Linked DNA regions of Homo sapiens. The protein of the gene in region 2 interacts with the protein of the main gene of each other region in a pairwise test. Each region holds a gene or a part of one and is shown on either strand. Other genes may lie near its edges. The genes, in order: USP53 and IREB2.

Region 1 (3,822 bases), on a different chromosome or scaffold from region 2:
GCCAGAAGTTAGGAAGGGGCAAGGAAAGATTCTATTCAGAGCCCTCAGTTGGAACCAATCCTGCTGACACCTGGATTTTGGACTTCTAGTTCCAGAACTGTGAGAGAATAAATTTCTGTCATTTAAGCCACCCAGTTTGTGGTTCTTTGTTACAACAGCCCTAGGAAACTAATATAATAGTTGATAAAGCCATGAGACTCTTTGTTCTTTTATGTGTATGGATTTTTTTGATTATCAAACAGTACTTGTTCATTAGATTTCTGAAATACCACAGAAATACTACATAAAGAAAATTAGAAATATCCATAATTCCATATTAGCACAGAATCACTGCAAATATGTTCTTAATAGTACACAGTCCTAGCCATCAAACTGTAAAGTAAAACTTCATATTAACATCTTTTCACTAACAATATAGCACCTCAAAGATACACTGAGGACTTTCTGATGATATGCTACAACTGCTCATCTTACTAGAAGTATTTAAGATTTTATTTTAGATAACTAGATAGCAAACAGAAGAGTTATACCAAGTTGAAGTAATACAAAAAAACTCTTCATCTTCAAGTAGATAGTGTCAGAAAAAAGAAAAAATATATCTTTCATTACAGAAGTAACTGTGTTTATAAAGCTAAAGGATTATAGTAAGGAAGGTATAATTGAAGAATAAATATTCTTTGATGTGTAAAACCATTGTCACTCTAGAAATGGAGGAATTAGAGAAGACTACAGTAGAAAATTTATAAAACACAGAAAATAAAATTAATAAGAAAAAAGACTATAATACTGCCAACAAAAAAACAGTAAGTTTTAAGTAATTTTCAATGTTTCCACTTTTTTGCTCTATTTCTTTGTGTCTAACAAAAAACCGTGCTATATTTCATGTTGCTTTTACCTATTCACTAGTTTCCACTAGTAACTAACTAGCAAAAGACAAGCATACACATGTATCCAGAATATAGGACATGGTCATTAAAGAAAATGGCTTACAGCAGTCTACTTTTAAGACATGATCTCCAGAAGAAAATTATGTCAAGCCAGCAATAACCTAACATTTATTTGCCTTGACAAAGCCCCAGACTGAACTCTTACTTTATCTATACCTTCCTCCCCATCTCAGCCAATGGCAACTTTATCTTTCCAGTTGCTGAGAACAAATATCTTGATGTCATCTTTGACTCCTTTTTCTGTCATATTTCAGGATCTGACCACTTTTCACCACCTCCACTTCAACAATTCTAGTCTTGGCCATCATCACATCTTGTGTGGATTAAAAAAATAGCAGCTTGTCTCCTGGCTTCTACCCTTTACACAGTAACATATAAGTCTATTCTGGAGAGCAGACAGAGATCTTTCTAAAATTAAATCATAATGTCACTATCTGCCCAGCCCCTCATCTAACTACTTGACCTTTGGCTTTCCCATTCCAGCCACATCAGCCTCCTTCTCATTCCTGCACACTATACAAACTTCTGTTCTCTATATTGTTTGCACTGGCCATTCCCCTGCCTGGAATACATTCCCCCCATAACGCCCACATGGCTTTGCCCTCCCTCCCTTCATAATTGCTTTGCCAAAAAAGTCACTTAAATGAGGCCTACACTTATTTAAAATTGCAAACCATCACAATCTCTACCACGCTTTCCAAATTCCTCTTACCTTGTTCTACTTTTTCATTCCTCCTTGGCACTTTTCTCCTTCTAAATATATTATAGAATTGACTGCTTATTCTTTATTGTCTCTTCTCCAAATCCACTTAGAATGTAAAGCAAATCCCAAGCATCTAGAACAGAACACAGTGCATGGTTAAGTTTTCATCAAATATTTATTAAAGGAAGCTCAGGAAACAAAGTAAAATCTCAAACAACAAACCCTTTGGAAAAAACAGTGTTCCTAACAAAGACAACCTAGGCACTAAAGTATAGGACAATTTCCTACCATCTGGCAGGTAGGTCAGTGTCAGTACTACACTGACAAAGGAGGAGCATTATCTCATGCCTATATGGTAGCATCATATAGGAGGAAAAATTTAGGGCTCAATCTGCTCACCTAAGTATGGGGAGGGGCACCATGAGAGGGGCAACAGTTTATTATGCAGGCTGAGGAGTTAAGAAAAAGCCAAAGAATGAGGTATCTGATGGGCAAAGAATACCCTGATGGCTTCTTGACAAGGATGGAATCCATACCCTGATAGTGACCTTATAATTCCCATAGATATTTTATTCCTCCTCTGATATAAAGTTTACAACACATTGCTCAACTACTCAATCATTAAAAATCTATCAGTTTCATCATCTATAATCAAAATCATAGGGCTACTGTGAGAATCATAAACCATGTATAAAATACCTAATAAATGGCCAAAACATAGGCATTCAACGAATGCAGGCTAATTATAATAACATTATCTTCCACGTAAAATGATTTTTAACAATGTCAACAAGGATTTAGAAAAAAGCAGACGCTGTATTATATATTTTATACTCCATTTTGCTATCTTTAAGGAAATACCTTAAACTGATATATTAAACTTAACCATTGCTTTAATTCAGATTAATGAGATCAGATAAATTGTTCAATGAAATATCAATTTCTTAATTTTAAAATTTTAGTAGCTGTTCTTAGTAAATCATAAGCAATTTTGTTACGGAGCTATCCTAGTTTAAGAATATCTAGCATATGAAAAACCTAATTTATAAAATGAATGTTTGGGAATACTTCACATTATAAGTGGATTTTCACCACAGAATTGTTGTAAATATTCATTTACAAAACCTTTCTGGACTAGAAAGGAGAGAAGGAGAAAATGAGTTAAAATGTTAACAGCCAATGGATCAGAAAGAAAGATAAAGTGACTGAAGTAAGTGTCAGCAACAGAGACTTGATTTAGAAATTTTCAACCAAAGTATAAGTTTTCAGAAAAATAACTACTTAATGATTTTTTTTTTTTTTTAGACAGAGTCTCACTCGGTCGCCCAGGATGTAGAGCAACGGCACAATCTCAGCTAACTGCAACCTCCGCCTCTTGGGTTCAAGTGATTCTCCTGCCTCAGCCTCCTTAGTAGCTGGGACCACAGGTGTGCACCACCACGCCTGGCTAATTTTTGTATTTTTTAGTACAGATAGGGTTTCACCATGTTGGCCAGGGTGGTCTCAATCTCCTGGCCTCAAGTGATCCGCCTGCCTCAGCCTCCCAAAGTGCTAGGATTACAGGCGTGAGCCACAGCACCCAGCCAACATTGTCTAATTAACTTTTGACTTTCTAGTGTTTAGCACTATGCCTAGCATACAATAGGAGGTCAATAATGTTTATTCAATACTTCTAACTCAGAAAAGCGCAGCAGTAAAAAACTTCCAAAGGAAGGGTATTTCTTAAAACTTCTTTTTTGTAATATGTGTAAAATTGAAAACTAATGTTATCTTCAAATTAATTCAAAAATACCATGACACCTCAAATAACTGATTTTGTTCATAAAAATAGCTAAGATATTGGAATAAGGTTTATTTTGCAGAAAAAATTCTGATGAACTGCAGAGTATATGAAGCAACTCTTCTGAAGTCTCATGTAAAATCATAATTCTTTAGCCAGATGCAATGGTTTGTAGCCTTTTCTTGTATCATGGACATCTTTGGTGGCCTAATGAAGCCCCCTATGAATAATGTTTGTAAATGAACAAAATAAAATTCATAGCATAAAAAAAAGAAAAAGAAAAAAAAATACTAAGATCACAAAGAAAACCAATTATATTAAAACTCAATTCTAACCACAGACCACAGTTCTAATCATGGGCTTTTGGTTCAACAATTCCTGATAGAGGATAT
Region 2 (3,822 bases):
AGCTACTTGGGTGGCTGAGGCACGAGAATCACTTCAACTTAGGAGACAGAGGTCACAGTGAGCTGAGATCATGCCACTGCACTCCAGCTGGGATGACAGAGCAAGACTCTGTCTCAAATAAATAAATATATACATACATACATACATACATTGCCATTGAGAGAGTCTGAGGAAGCAGAAAACAAAACAGATTCCTGCATAAGATTTTGTTTTTTCACCTGTACTGGCACGTCCTCAGAATGCCTATACCACAGCCCTCTTTCTAAAAAGTTCCTTCTATACCAATTGCTGGTGGGCTCTGTGTAGCCTTGCCATCCTGGCATGAATAGCTGGGACCTGGAGCCAGCCTTCCAACAGACAACCAATTTACAGTCTGGCCAGTGGCACAGGGAGTTCGCCAAGCACAAATGTCATGTCCAATAGGCTGCCTCAGCCTCGTTCTGTGATACCTTGAACTTGACTTAGGGAGAAGGCAGAAAACAGATGGAAACAAAAAAGAACCAAGAGAAAAAGAAAAGCAGAATAATGGGCCGGGCATGGTGGCTCACGCCTGTAATCCTAGCACACTGGGAGGCCAAGGCAGGAAGACTGCTTGAGGTCAGGAGTTCAGGAGACTCCCGTCTCTATAAAAGATAAAAAAAAAATCAGAGCGGGAGTGGTGGCTCACGCCTGTACTCCCAGCACTTTGGGAGGCCGAGGCAGGTGGATCATCTGAGGTCAGGAGTTTGAGACCAGCCTAGCCAACATGGTGAAATGCCATCTCTACTAAAAATACAAAAATCAGCCAGGTATGGTGGCACGCACCTGTAATCCCAGCTACTCAGGAGGCTGAGGCAGGAGAATTGCTTGAACCTGGTAGGCGGAGGTTGCAGTGAGCCGAGACGGTGCCACTGCATTCCAGCCTGGGTGACAGAGCAAGAGTCCGTCTCAAAAAAAAAAAAAAAATTAGCCAGGTGTAGTGGTGTCTTCTTGTAGTGGGAGGCTGAGATGGGAGGATTGCCTGAGTCCAGGAGGTTGAAGATGCAGTGAACTATGACTGCATCACTGTACCCCAGCTTGAGTAACAAAGAGAGATCCTGTCTCAAAAAAAAAAAAAAAGAAAGAAAGAAAAGAAAAAGAAAGGAAAGCAGAAATAGGGAAAATCAGCTAAGCCAGAATCATGGGTTCTATGCATGCCTACTGAAGGGAACAAAGAGTCTGATCTGACCACGCACTCAGATCCCCTCAATTTCCTTATTTCCTTCAAATCTTCACAATAAACCCCCCAATTTAATGTAGAAGAAAGTTTTTTTTCTTCTCTTCATTCACTGACAGAAATTGAGCCAACAAGAAAAATAATATCTACTATTGATGAAGGTGCAGAAACACATATTCTTCTCATTCACTGGTAAGCATGTAAACTGGCATTCTTTGCTAACACTATACAACAGATGTCCTTCATGGTGCCTGTCCAAACTGCTACAGTTCTCGGTGGCCTGTGGCCTCCTTGGCTACAGCAGCGACGCAAAAGCCAATCCCCTGGTAGGCTGATGACCAAAAGTCTTGTGAGAAAGGAGACACTGGGGCAATTAGATTCACCTCTCAGAAATGTGTAATCAGGACACAGAGAGACTGAACTGGAAAGGTGTTAAGAGCTAAGCTAGGGACTGAGGTTGCCATTTGAGGCCATGTACAAAGTGAGCAGGCAGAGGAGGCTTGTCTATAGTGAAGTGGAGGAAGCAGAAGAGTGGAACAGGGCAGAAATCTGAAGCTCCTAAGAGAAAATAATAAACAACTTCCTTAATTCTGGGCCACCACCATTTTCTTGAGAGACAGCCACATTTCATTGGCCTGGGGAGCGCTGTATCATTACAATAAATCCTTCTTCACTCGAGCTAGTGTCTGTTCCTTGGAACCAAAAGGGCCTAATCTAGAATAGAAATTGGCAATAAAAACAAAGTTGAAATGTGGAGGGTTGGTGAGCACATGGCTATACATGGACTAGTAGGATGATGTTAGGTAAAGGTAATCCTTGGAAAGTTATGTACTATGTGTACAAATTACAAGCAAACTGTTACATTGCTTACCCAACCCAGTCTTTTCAAGAGTCCACATAAAAGACAAGATGAACAGATTTGTGTCTCTACCAGCAAGATCACCAGACCGGCAATAGACTCCTGACAAGTGCAGTCAAAATAGGTTAAAACAACAGGTGAGCTGGATACAATGGATCACACCTGTAACCCCAGCACTTTGGGAGGCTGAGGCAGAAGGATCACTTGAAGCCAGGATTCAAGACCAGCCTAGGCAATGTAGGGAGACCCTGTCTCTACAAAACATTTAAAATTTAGCCAGGCATGATGGCATGTGCTTGTAGTCCCAACTACTTGGGAGACTGAGGAAAGAGGATCACTTGAGCCCGGGAGGTCCAGGCTGCAGTGAGCCATGATCGAACCACTACACTCCAGCCTGGGCAACAGAGCAAGACCCTGAGGGAAAAAACAAAACAAACAAAACAAAACAAGTAAAAGAGTCACCTAGAGGTACACTCTTAACCGGTTAGTAATCCAGTCATAACATACAAGAATGGTCAGCAGTGGCCATATTGGGCATTATACAAAAATGAGTAAGTGAAGTAGGCTGTAGAGATGGAAGACTGGATATTCAAAAAGAAACAGAAAATAAGGAAACCAGGCAGCCTTTAAGTGACAAACAGAACACTGCCTCTGGCTTAGAAATTCTGGTTCCCTGAAACTTGACTATGCTTTCTTCCTTTGTCTTTGGATGTCTGGAAACTGCAACCTATTTTTTACTTGAGTGAGTTTTTGTTCTTTTTAGTCCAAGGTAAAGACTGGAACCAGACCGGGTGCAGTGGTTCATGCCTGTAATCTCAACACTTTGGGAGGCCAAGGCAGGTGGATCACCTGAGGCCAGGAGTTCCGAGACCAGCCTGGCCAGCATGGCGAAACCCTGTCTCTACTAAAAATACAAAAATCAGCAGGGTGTGAAGGCATGGGCCTGTAATCCCAGCTACTCCAGAGGCTGAGGCAGAAGAATCACTTGAACCCAGGAGTTGGAGGACGCAATGAACTGAGACTGTGCCACTGCACTCCAGCCTGGGCAACACAGCAAGACTCTGTCTCAAAAAAAAAAAAAAAAAAATAAAGACTGGAACCAACAGTAAATAGTGAAAGTATAAAAATAAAAGCGTGTGATGGGGTGGAGGAAATAACATACTTTCAATCCAACAATTCTATATAATGATAAGTTTGCACAAAAATGTAAGTATTAGCACATACAAAGTTTATTTATAAATAGAGAAAAGTTACTATCAGCCTCAATATTCAAAGGTCTGTTAACTAAACCACAATGCATTCATACAGGCAATATTGTGCAGCTATTAGAAGCCACAGAGAAGTACAGGTATCCCTTTCTACCTGAACTCAAGCTCCCTGACTCAGAAACCAAGTAGATTCAGATAGCAAGGGATACCTGTATTCAATGACATGGAAAGATGTTCATGATATATTAAGTGAAAAAAAGGGTTACAAAACAACATATACTTTATTTTTATTAAAAGTAGCATATTTACATATATTTTTGTATACACATAAAAATGAGACTTTCTGTACCATCTGCAATGTTCTTGTCTTTTTGTGATTCTTCTAAATGATAAAAACTCTCCTAAAAAATTAAATACAGGATTTTCTTCCAAAGGCTGCAAGGTAGGATTTGGACACTAAGTCCCGGCTCTACTGGAGGACTAAGCAGTACTGTGGTTAAAAAGGCAAGCAGACAGGAAGGACAAAAGAAAGGGTGAATAAGATGACCTGAGATAAAGGG

The links.
Region 1: the proteins of IREB2 (region 2) and USP53 interact in a two-hybrid assay, tested with the Homo sapiens proteins (one large-scale study listed by BioGRID and IntAct).

Annotation. Positions count from the first base shown.
Region 1 is NC_000004.12:119,215,511-119,219,332, reverse strand, and holds part of USP53 (ubiquitin carboxyl-terminal hydrolase 53), read right to left. Parts: intron 1,784-3,822; 5' UTR 1,660-1,783; intron 1-1,659. UniProt on the Homo sapiens protein: Deubiquitinase that mediates 'Lys-63'-linked deubiquitination of tight junction proteins, such as MARVELD2 and LSR, and which is involved in the survival of auditory hair cells and hearing.
Region 2 is NC_000015.10:78,444,456-78,448,277, reverse strand, and holds part of IREB2 (iron-responsive element-binding protein 2), read right to left. Parts: intron 1-3,822. UniProt on the Homo sapiens protein: RNA-binding protein that binds to iron-responsive elements (IRES), which are stem-loop structures found in the 5'-UTR of ferritin, and delta aminolevulinic acid synthase mRNAs, and in the 3'-UTR of transferrin receptor mRNA.